Homo sapiens: one gene and its partners. The protein of the gene in region 1 interacts with the protein of each later gene in a biochemical or structural test. Each region holds a gene or a part of one and is shown in the gene's direction. Other genes may lie near its edges. The genes, in order: CABIN1, GRM1 and MEF2D.

Region 1 (3,818 bases):
GCATTCTTTGTGAAGGTGATATTTCTGGGGGAGATAAATCCAAGAAAGGGGTAAAACGGAAGAAGATTTCAGAAGAGAGTGGAGAAACAGCAAAGCGGCGGTCTGCCCGTGTCCGAAACACCAAGTGCAAAAAAGAAGAGAAAGTAGACTTCCAGGAGCTTCTGATGAAGTTCTTGCCGTCCAGGTACTGTGTATTTTTTCTGATTGTCAGAAACAAACCCACAAAGCTCCAGCATACACCATCAGTAACATTTCTCATTCCATTGCCACCCTCTTCTCTGGTCTCCTCCTCTGTGTTCCCATAACATCTGTGCAGATGTCTGAAGCACAAATCTCACTGGAGTAGGATCTTGGATTTTTCTCGCCTCTTCCCACCTCTGAAATTCCTGAAGTCAGGAGCTGTGACTTGTTCATCTTTTGAGAGCTAGAAGCAACATACTCATGTCCCTGTGTATTTACAAGACATCTATTTGTTGCTGGGAGGCAGAGGGGTGCTGTGCCTTGGGTGCAGATGCCCTGAAAACCCCATGGAAGGGAGCTTCCCTCCTGCTTTCAGGGAGTCCGTGTCTACTTGATTTGCTCCAGGCTCAGCAGGATTCCCTTGCATTCTGAGAAGGTAGAGGAGGAGCTTGTGAAGTATTCCTGGGTTTCACTCATTCTTAGTGCTTCTCAGGAGCCTAGGGGACAAGCAGGAACCAGGCTCCCCAGAGCTGGGAGGGACTTGGTCCCCAGTGCTTCTTACTTAGGTTTTCACCAGTCCTTCTGCCTTTTTTTTTTTGAGACGGAGTCTTGATCTTTCGCCCAGGCCGGAGTGCAGTGGTGCTATCTGGGCTTACTGCAAGCTCCACCTCCCGGGTTCATGCCATTCTCCTGCCTCAGCCTCACGCATAGCTGGGACTACAGGTGCCTGCCACCGCGCCTGGCTAATTTTTTGTATTTTTGGTAGAGACGGGGTTTCACTGTGTTAGCCAGGATGGTCTTGATCTCCTGACCTCGTAATCTGCCCGCCTCAACCTCCCAAAGTGCTGGGATTATAGGCATGAGCCACGGCGCCCGGCCAGTCCTTCTGCTTTTTGTCCTTGCCTGCTCACCTCCTTCAGAGGCTTTAGGATCCTCAATTTCTGAGCCTTCCTGGAGTTTATGGTGCCAGTGGGTTGGTTTCTTAATACTCCCCTTTCTCCTCCCTTAGCTGAGTGGAGAGGCCTCTCTCGGCAGACACCATTCTTCATTTGCACTGGGCCATCTGCCTTCTAACAGTTGGCTGGTACATTTTTTGTCTGCTGGGGCATCCTCGCCTATCTTCTGTCTTTGTGAGTTTATACCTTTTTTACTCCTTCGTTGTTACTGGAATGGAGTTTGGGAGCTAACCATATGTGTTCGATATGCCATCTTTAAACAGGAGTTAAACTATCTAGTTCTTTCCCATGACAGTTTATTTCAGTGGTAACAACATCAAAGTGGTGAAGGAGAAGCCAGAAGCTTTAGGTGGTTTGTAAATTTATTTTACAGCAAGATTCCTAATTTTCTTAATTTGTTGTCTTTCTGAGGTGAAGGTGAAATGCTTAGAAATAATGATTGTTCTCAGTACTTGACGCAGAACCAAAGTGGGGCTGCAGTGCCTTCTGATGAATTTTTCTTAAGGGGTAATACCAGAAGAAAGTTTCTCTTTGGAAGAACTGCAGGATTGTTCTTTGGTTGATGGTGCCAAGAGATTTGAGTGACCCTATATTCCCCTTAGCCCTGCTTTTTACTCCAAGGTCTTGTTCCCTAGTCCCATTTACCTGGATGGTTTCGACTTTCTTTTTAATCTTCATTTTAGTTGTTGGTTTCGTTTGTGGTTTAGTGTCTGCTCCTTTGTTGTTTATTTTTGTTAGAGATGGGGTCTTGCCCTGTTGCCTAGGCTGGAGTACAGTGGCACAATCATAGCTCACTGTGGCCTTGAACTCCTGGACTCAAGGGATCCTCCTGAATACCCAGGACCACAGGTGCACACCACTATGCCCAGCTAATTTTATTTCTTGTTTTTTGTAGAGATGAGGTCTTGCTATATTGCCCAGGCTGATCTTGAACTCCTGGCCTCAAGCCGTCCTTCTGCCTCCACCTCCCAAAATGTTGAGATTACAATCTTGAGCAACCACACTTAACTTAGTTTCTGCTTCTTTGAATGGTCAAGGCAAGAGCAACATGGTAGCTCGCCTGATGGAGTCACCCTGGGAGTGTGTGCAATACGTGAATGAAGACATTCACAAGTGCCCTGAGTGTTTATGCTGCAGGGGTTCTGGGTTGAGGGAACACCACAAGGTTGGCTGAAATGGGTCCTTGGGAGGAGTGCCTGCCAGGAGAGGCATCCCCAGTCCCGAGACTGGGCCCACCCACAGCTTTGTGAGGAGCCACGGAAGGACCAAGTTCAGATGAGCTTGATGTATCCCCCAAACTCCCACCTATCTATCCGCTTTCCACCTTAGTTGTTGGGCTCCCATGAGGTCCTAGAACACACCAGGTGCTCTTCTGGCCTGTGCCTTTGTACCTGTTCTTGTCCTGCATCTTTGTATTGCAAGCCCTTCTCCTCCTCCAGTGTGTCAGCATGAACATTATCCCCTCTCAAAGGCTTTCTCTGACCCTGCTCTCTAAAGCAGGGCCCTTTTGACCCATAGTCTCAAGCACTCTGTTGTGAGGTGGTCCTTATTTGGGTTAGTTTGTGTACCTGCTTATTGGCTGTGTCTCTCTAGAGGGTAAGCTTACTGCAGGCAGGATCTGCCACATTTAGGGCTGCTGTATTTGGTGCCTAGCACAGTGCCTGGCACATAGCTGGTGCTCGGTAATCATCTGTTGATGAGATGAATGACCGAGACAGGATACAGACCAAATGCTGGCTCATGAGGCCCTGGAGAGAGGCAGAGCCTCCTGGAGGCCTGGGTTCTGGACCCCACCACCCACTTATTTTAGCTGCCTTCTTCCTGACTCAGATTTAGTTTCTCTAACAGGAAGAGTTCAGATGCTTGTGTCAGAACGTGTGTTGTGACTTTGTGATTTTGGCATGTTACATGCAGGTTAAGAAAGCTGGACCCTGAGGAGGAAGATGATTCCTTTAATAACTATGAAGTCCAGTCAGAAGCCAAACTGGAAAGCTTCCCAAGCATTGGGCCTCAAAGGCTGTCATTTGACTCAGCCACATTCATGGAATCTGGTAGGAATCGAGCAGTGTGACCATTCACTTTGGGAATTCTTCTTCCCACTATCCTATAACCTGCTTATGTTTTGTTCTGGGAGAATGGTTCTGGGGTGTTTTTTAGTGTGGCCAAGAGTCTGCCTGGATTAGTCTTGGACCTAAGCCCTGTGGTCAGCTTGGAGGTCTTCTGAAATGTCCAGGCTCATACTTGCTATGCTTTCTTATGGCCAAATTCAGAGACTTCGCTTTGCAAATTGAATCTATATAAGCACACCTGTTGAGTGTGTATCAGTGTATAACTGTTGAGTGAGATTAGTGCACATGGCAGCACTTGGAGGTCTGCCCTTTTGATGTCCACCTTAGATACGGAGATTCAGAGAGGCTCAATCATAGCTGCTGAGGGTTGGAGCCAGGCATTGAACCCAGTAGCCTGATCTCAGCACCACAACGTGGTATCATGTCCACCTGGATCAGATGGTAGAGGGAGGGAACAGTCTTTACTGTCCCAAAGTAAATAGGAGACCCTGGCATGGAAGGTACTCTTTATTCAAGTCAGGTTGTTCTTGCTCCCCGGGCAGAAAAGCAGGACGTGCATGAGTTCCTGCTGGAGAACCTAACCAACGGGGGCATCCTGGAGCTGATGATGCGC
Region 2 (3,818 bases), on another chromosome or scaffold:
GATCTCTCTGCTCTGCAGATGACACAAATAGAAAGCTTTGAACAAGAGTAGAAAGACACACTGTCACTTGTCTTTTCCCCTGAAAAAGCCGGGCCACATTCTGCTCAGCCAACATGTTCCCAGAGGAATGTGATTTAACTTCCGCTTTTCACACAGTCAGAAGCAACACCATAGACCTGTAGGGAAGGTGATGGCCGCCTGGGAGGAATTTGGATAAGTATTTGTCACTCCAGTATTTTCATGTGACCTGACTCTCATTCTCAATTTAGTTACATCTTGACCTGAAAATGCAGCCACAATATGTCTCTCTTCATTTGGCATACCTTAATTCATAATGGGCATGCCTGTCCTTTCCCTTCTCCCACCCTATGCAGCCTCTTCCTGATTTCCCTTGCAATCTACTAATAGAGCCTTTCTTTAGATGTCTGTACATGTGTTTACACTCTGTTTCCCTCTGTAGGGACTTTACTCGCAGAAAGAGAAAATATATTTGAGTCCCTGAGATATATATACAAAGATATCTACCCCAAAGCAGCCTAGGCAGTTCTCCACTTCTTTGGCCAGATTGTCTGACTATTCACGTATCTGGCAGCTTCTATACGACCCCTCATATAGTAAAGGAATTAATATTCCCCACTTCCTCCTAGTTTGTCTCCCCTCCTCCCTCTATCAAACGACTGATTTTTATACATGAGATAATAGACAAGCCTTGGGTGACCTGTTTTTTTTTTTCTTCCCTCCCCCTCTTTTTCCCTTGCGGTAAAATAGTGCTGAAGAAAGAGGGCACTAGTGTACAGCCCAGATCGCATCCTTGCACCGTCTGGATTAGAGCTGAGGCGTCTGCAAGCCGAGCGTGGCCACGGTCCTCTGGCCCCGGGACCATAGCGCTGTCTACCCCGACTCAGGTACTCAGGTATGTCTCAAGTCCATGTCCTCCAAACAGACTCAGGTGAGCGGACACTTCCTCCGGTGAAACCCACCCACAACGGCAGACAAAGTCCCAGTCTATCAGATTTTCCTCCGGGTCCCAGGCGCATTCTCGCTTATGTATTTCTTTTCGTCCTGTATCCTCAGGAAGAGTCGGGACCAATGGGTGCCTGGGTTTTCTTTCTCCTTTTTCTGCCTCACCTCCTGTGCTCTCCTCGCCCGCTCCCATAGCCCCCTTTTCGTCGACTCTCACCTTGAGAAAAGGAGCAGGGGAGGAACGGGAGAGGGAGCCAACTTCAGCCCCGCAGGCGGCTGAGATTTGGCGCCTCTGTCCCCAAGCGGGTGGGTTTGGATATATACCTGCACAAGCGGTGCAAGGTGATGAGAATGAGGGCGGAGGGGCGGTGGGGACTCGAGTGGAAGGGAGTGTGTGTGTGTGTGTGTGTGTGTGTGTGTGTGTGTGTGTGTGTGTATGGGTAAAGAACTCAGAGGAGGGAGGTTGAAAGAGCAAAGCGGGTCAGGGAATTGCAACTCACTGGTCAAAGCGTCCCTTGCAGGCCCTGCCAGGGAATGTCTGGCTGGACCGAGCACTGTCCAGGGTCCTGAAGGCGGCAGGGCTCAGGCTGCCGCGGCGAGAGCAACCCGGAAGCTCCCCTCCGTTCCCTTTCTAGCAACTATGCAAACCCCAAAGCAAGCGCAGGACCCCCCCTAACCCGTCCACCCACCGCGGGAAACAAGTTACCTTATCTGCACCCCTTCTTCTTGAACATACACAGCAAGCCTGACTTCTTACGGGGGAAACATACCAAACTCCTCCATACGGAGACTTTACCAGGCGTTGCCTTAGTAACTAATGTGGATTTTCTTCAAGCTGGCAAATTTATATTTACAGCTGATTTTATGTCAGGGCTTCTTCAACCCCTCAAAATTAAAGTAAAAGGTGCATCCTTTGTTTACGTTTATTTTAAAGTCGCGCTTCCACCTTTACAATGAGTTTCCAAATTTTCTTCTGAAAAAAAGTTGATCTTTTCCAATCCGGAAAGTTCTCTTGGGTTGAAGGACCTAGCTCCTCCCCTCCTCTCTGCTCACCTTCCCCACCGCCCTCCAAGTTAGAAAGCATGATAGGTTTTAGGGGACCAGGAAACGACTTAAGGTTGGAGGAGCGGGCGAGTTGGCGGGGCTCTGCGCCGCCTGGACCCGTGAGGACAGAGGGGGCAGGACACCCCGCCTTCCTCAGTGACCACAGCTGCGCTCCAAGCTGTTCCTGCAGCCGATATCAGGATGTGCCGAAATGAAACGGACAAGGCAACTGTTAACATTATAGACCCCAGAGTTTTAACACAGGTCCTCTGATGACAAGGTTGTGATTTTTCTCTGTCTTTTGTCAGCAGCATCTAGCTCACCGCTGCCAACACGACTTCCACTGTACTCTTGATCAATTTACCTTGATGCACTACCGGTGAAGAACGGGGACTCGAATTCCCTTACAAACGCCTCCAGCTTGTAGAGGCGGTCGTGGAGGACCCAGAGGAGGAGACGAAGGGGAAGGAGGCGGTGGTGGAGGAGGCAAAGGCCTTGGACGACCATTGTTGGCGAGGGGCACCACTCCGGGAGAGGCGGCGCTGGGCGTCTTGGGGGTGCGCGCCGGGAGCCTGCAGCGGGACCAGCGTGGGAACGCGGCTGGCAGGCTGTGGACCTCGTCCTCACCACCATGGTCGGGCTCCTTTTGTTTTTTTTCCCAGCGATCTTTTTGGAGGTGTCCCTTCTCCCCAGAAGCCCCGGCAGGAAAGTGTTGCTGGCAGGAGCGTCGTCTCAGCGCTCGGTGGCCAGAATGGACGGAGATGTCATCATTGGAGCCCTCTTCTCAGTCCATCACCAGCCTCCGGCCGAGAAAGTGCCCGAGAGGAAGTGTGGGGAGATCAGGGAGCAGTATGGCATCCAGAGGGTGGAGGCCATGTTCCACACGTTGGATAAGATCAACGCGGACCCGGTCCTCCTGCCCAACATCACCCTGGGCAGTGAGATCCGGGACTCCTGCTGGCACTCTTCCGTGGCTCTGGAACAGAGCATTGAGTTCATTAGGGACTCTCTGATTTCCATTCGAGATGAGAAGGATGGGATCAACCGGTGTCTGCCTGACGGCCAGTCCCTCCCCCCAGGCAGGACTAAGAAGCCCATTGCGGGAGTGATCGGTCCCGGCTCCAGCTCTGTAGCCATTCAAGTGCAGAACCTGCTCCAGCTCTTCGACATCCCCCAGATCGCTTATTCAGCCACAAGCATCGACCTGAGTGACAAAACTTTGTACAAATACTTCCTGAGGGTTGTCCCTTCTGACACTTTGCAGGCAAGGGCCATGCTTGACATAGTCAAACGTTACAATTGGACCTATGTCTCTGCAGTCCACACGGAAGGTAGGCATTATATTTGGGAAAGAAGGGTACTGAGAAAGTCAGGGCAATGCATGATGTGCTCCTGGGATCATAGTATTGTTCCTGTTTATTTCTAGCACTGTGGGGAACGGAGTTTACCCTTCTCAGTACTGCCCACCCAGGCATTGCCTTTTATCCTCATTTCCTTACAATTATAGTGTAGGAAAATTGTACCCCATAGAATATCTGAGGATAATAGGAGCTGAAAGGGTATCAAACTTTCCATGCAAAGTGTCCAGCAGTAGATTTGACTTGAATACTTGTTTGCCCTCATATTTTGAGTTTGCGTTTGGAAGGCTTATTTGTCCAAGGTGTTATATTGCCCTTCAGTGACTGGCTATGACTTTCCAGGTGTAATGAGTTAATTCAGTGTGAGTGATTGGCAAAAAGAAGTTACTATTCCACAAATAGGACTTCAAAGCTTTATCTTTCTTTAACAGTTGAAGATTTTCTTTGTCCTCT
Region 3 (3,600 bases), on another chromosome or scaffold:
TTCTGGTGTTGGGGCCCCAGCCTCCCAGATCCAATGAGGAACTGAGAAGCTGTATTTGGGGACACGGTGGGACACTGTTTCCTGAAAGGGGGGGGTCAGGTAGAAGGGTTGGAAACTGAGGCCAAGGAAGTAGGAGCTTGCTGGCTTCCTGTCTTAGGACACACAAGATAAGTCTCCAACCTATTTGCAGAGCAATTCCACTGAACTCACCTCCTTTAAGGCTTGCATGAGCCAATGGAGGCCTAGAGGGTTCTTTGCAGACCAGCCCTTGGCCCAATGGTCTGGTTTGGGTTATTATACAGCATAAGACACTGTACTAAGCAATCTGCTTAGAAGAACTAATTTAATCTTCACACTAAATTTCTGAGTTAGCTACTATTATCACCATCTCTAGTCATGGTCACCATGAGGTAGGGGAAAGTTAAATAATATGCCTGTGTTCACAGCTAATGAATGGTGGAGTGAGGATCTGAACCAGGACAGCTTGACGGCAAAGTTGACATTTCTAACCACAATGACATGTTGCCTCTCTCTATATATTGGAGTCTTTGTCCGGTAAATCAGATCCAGCCAGAAATCAGGGTGTGTGTCTGGGCGCGGTGGCTCACGCCTGTAATCCTAGCACTTTGGAAGGCCGAGGCGGGCGGATTGCTTGAGCTCAGGAGTTCGAGACCAGCCTGGGTAACACGGTGAAATCCCATCTCCACTAAAACACAAAAAATTAGCCGGGCGTGGGGGCGTGCGCCTGTCGTCCCAGCTATTCGGGAGGCGGGAGGGGAGGCGAGGCAGGAGAATCGCTTGAACCTGGGAGGCGGAAGTTGCAGTGAGCCAAGATCGCGCCACTGCACTCCAGCCTGGGCGACGAAGAAAGACTCCGTCTCAAAAAAAAAAAAAAAAAAATTCGGGGTGTGTGAAGAACTGAGTGAGTGCCCTTCTGTTCTGCAAGGTTCTTTGAGATCTAAGCCAGATGCCATCATTTCCTTACGCTCTTGGGAGAAAGCAGCAGGACTTGGAAGTAACAGGGATGCTGAAGCCTGACGGGTCAGTTGTCCAGTAGGCATGGCACCCACACTCCTGTTGTAGGGCACGTAAATATTCACCACACCCTGGAGCAACCAGGAATATAAAAATAAAAAATTTTAAAGAGCTACTACTGCTTCTTTAATAAGACATTTCTGGGTGTTTACTGTGCGGCGGGAGGTGGGGAGGAATTAGGGTCCCGCCCCTTTAAATTGCCCCCTCGGCAGTAAGTGCTGTGGGGCCCCGCAAGCACTGGAGATTAGGTCACCCAAGAACTATGAGCTGTCGCTTTAAATTGCTGGGCGTCTGCCGAGCCGGGCCCTGGGACCGGAGGGGGCCTGTCACAGGTAGAGGGAGCAACTGAGCTCCCTAGGTAACACCCCCCAACCCCAAGAATGTCGCCCGTGAGTGGGGCTTTGTCACACACCAAGTGGGGGAGATGGGAGCTTTTCACCACTTCCAGTCTCCCCTTAATTTATCTACTTAGACTCCCACCTCCCAACTCTCCTGGGGCCCGGGGCCGCGAGGAGGTGCCGAGGTGGCGCGTGTTGAGAGTGTGCGTGCAGCTCGCACGGCCTCCCCGGAAAGGACCTCCTGGAGCACGCGGTGGCAGCAGCGCCAGGCGGGCGGGCGGGCGGCCGGCGTGCTCCGAGGGGCACCGTGGGAGCGGACCGATCCCTTTAAAGGCCTCTGGGTCTCGCCTCCCTACTTTGCCTCGCTTCGTCCCTTCCTCCCTCCCTCCCGGCAGGCGGAGGGATCCGCCGCTCCCAGCGCCGCAGCCTAGCTTGGGAGGGCGGTGGGGTGGGGGCCGACCCGGCCTGGCCCGGCCAGCCCTGGGGAAGCGAGGGGCGGGGCCGCGTCCTCGGGACCGCCCCAGCCCCGGCTCCGCCCCGCCACCCCCACAGGTGCCTCCCATTGGCCCCCACGCCTGTCCGTCACCCCTTTCCCCCCACCCCTCAAGCTAGGCTGAGCTGTGCCTACGTCGGCCTCGACTCCCGGGGGCTGGAGGAGTTACCTTTGGAGCCCGAAAGGAGGAAGGAAGCAAAATATCAACAACAGCCGAGGCGGCTCAGGCGCTCGGCCCCGGTTCCCCGCTTGCCTGCCGCCCGCCTGCTGGCCCCCGCGCCCACGACGGGGGCCCAGGCCTCACGGCGCCGCCCAGGGCCCGCGCGGACGCCGGCCTCATTTATTATTCTCCCCGCCCGGAGCTGCGGCTTCCCGGTGTTGAAGATCCCCCGGACCAGGGGCGAGGGCTACCCGCTCTTTGCCGTGACAACACCGTTCCCCCAGCCGGGCTGGTGAGTAGAGAAAAATAATGCGCCTGCCACTTTAAGAGGCCCCCTCCCCCACCCGGTCCAGGGGTTGGGGTGGAGGGTGGTCTAGACCGTCCCCCTGAGGGGTGGGATGGGGCAGCCCCCGGGCCGGGAGGAACTCGCGAAGCGGGCCGTGTTTTCGTGTGGCGTTGGCGGGGATTACCTAGGGGACTGTTTGTGTCAGGGAGTCTGTCGTGGGGGACAAGTGGAGTGGGCTGCAATTCCCTTGGGTGTTGGGAGTACGGGGTGGGGACGGGCGGATTGGGGGCGCGCCCGCCTGTTCGTGTAGGGGGTTTACGACGGCCTCCGAGCGGTCTGGGACGGGGCGCCATCCTCCGAGGGGGTCTCCGGTGACAGTCGGGAGCGACTGACATTTTAACAGCCGGCCCTCCCTCCCTCTCCCTCCTCTCGCCGCCTGTTCCCTCCTCCTTGGCCCGAAATGGTGCAGAAGGGGGCCTGGGAGGGCGGCGGGAGGGTGGAGGCGGGGGGAGCCGCAGCTGTTTGGGAAGCGGGGGAGGGAGGGGGGATGTTGTTCAGATGACACCGGGGTAGTGGGTTGGGGTGTGTGAGTGTGTGTGTCTCCGGGGCCCGTGTTTGCCGGGTGCCTGTGGAGTTGGGACGCGGAGTCGCCACGAGGTGGGCACGCAGGACCCTTCCTTGAGACCTCCTAGCCCCGCTTCCGAGACCCCTGATGTGGTTTGTCAGTAACCCCAACTGGAGAACTCCCTGGCCAGAAGTTTGCAGCTGTTCAACATCTGGGCAAGAGTTCTCTAGTCCTTTCCACCTATGGCAGGCGGAGCTGGGCTGCGAGCGGGGGTTTAGGGAGTTTGGGGGGGCTTTTGGGAGGATGGGCCAAGGAGACCAAAATGCTTTTAGTCCCCCACTCCAATGCCAGCTTCTCTCCTACCAGGTTCGGGTCTTAGGGGGATGGGGAAAGGGGCCCCCTCCCCCTAGTGAATCACGCTGTCCTCTCAGCAGCCTTCCGAGGACTCCTCCTGAAAGGAAGGCACTCTAGAAGCCACCGACCGGGTTATCCCAGGTTTGCCCTTCTGAATGGGAGCCTCCCTCTGCCTCCCATTGCTTGGTGCATTGTTGATGGGTTGGGGGAGGGTATAGCGGGTTGGGGGGGATCCTGTGTCCCTCTTTGCTGTGCCCAACCCCCATTTGAGTTTTCCTCAGAGTCCTGGTTTCTTTGCTTTGGGGTGGAGGTGGCCCTTATCCACTCCTCCTCCTATCCCTTCAGTGGGTCTCCGCAGCAATTCAGGGT

The links.
Region 2: the proteins of CABIN1 (region 1) and GRM1 form a complex in vitro, tested with the Homo sapiens proteins (one study listed by BioGRID).
Region 3: the proteins of CABIN1 (region 1) and MEF2D form a complex in vitro, tested with the Homo sapiens proteins (2 studies listed by BioGRID).

The regions. Positions count from the first base shown.
Region 1 is NC_000022.11:24,056,177-24,059,994, forward strand, and holds part of CABIN1 (calcineurin-binding protein cabin-1), read left to right. Parts: intron 1-15; coding exon 16-184; intron 185-3,050; coding exon 3,051-3,187; intron 3,188-3,747; coding exon 3,748-3,818. UniProt on the Homo sapiens protein: May be required for replication-independent chromatin assembly. May serve as a negative regulator of T-cell receptor (TCR) signaling via inhibition of calcineurin. Inhibition of activated calcineurin is dependent on both PKC and calcium signals.
Region 2 is NC_000006.12:146,026,880-146,030,697, forward strand, and holds the start of GRM1 (metabotropic glutamate receptor 1 isoform alpha precursor), read left to right. Parts: upstream 1-2,182; 5' UTR 2,183-2,638; coding exon 2,639-3,338; intron 3,339-3,818. UniProt on the Homo sapiens protein: G-protein coupled receptor for glutamate. Ligand binding causes a conformation change that triggers signaling via guanine nucleotide-binding proteins (G proteins) and modulates the activity of down-stream effectors.
Region 3 is NC_000001.11:156,499,204-156,502,803, reverse strand, and holds the start of MEF2D (myocyte-specific enhancer factor 2D), read left to right. Parts: upstream 1-2,028; 5' UTR 2,029-2,318; intron 2,319-2,923; exon of another isoform or gene 2,924-3,372; intron 3,373-3,600. UniProt on the Homo sapiens protein: Transcriptional activator which binds specifically to the MEF2 element, 5'-YTA[AT](4)TAR-3', found in numerous muscle-specific, growth factor- and stress-induced genes.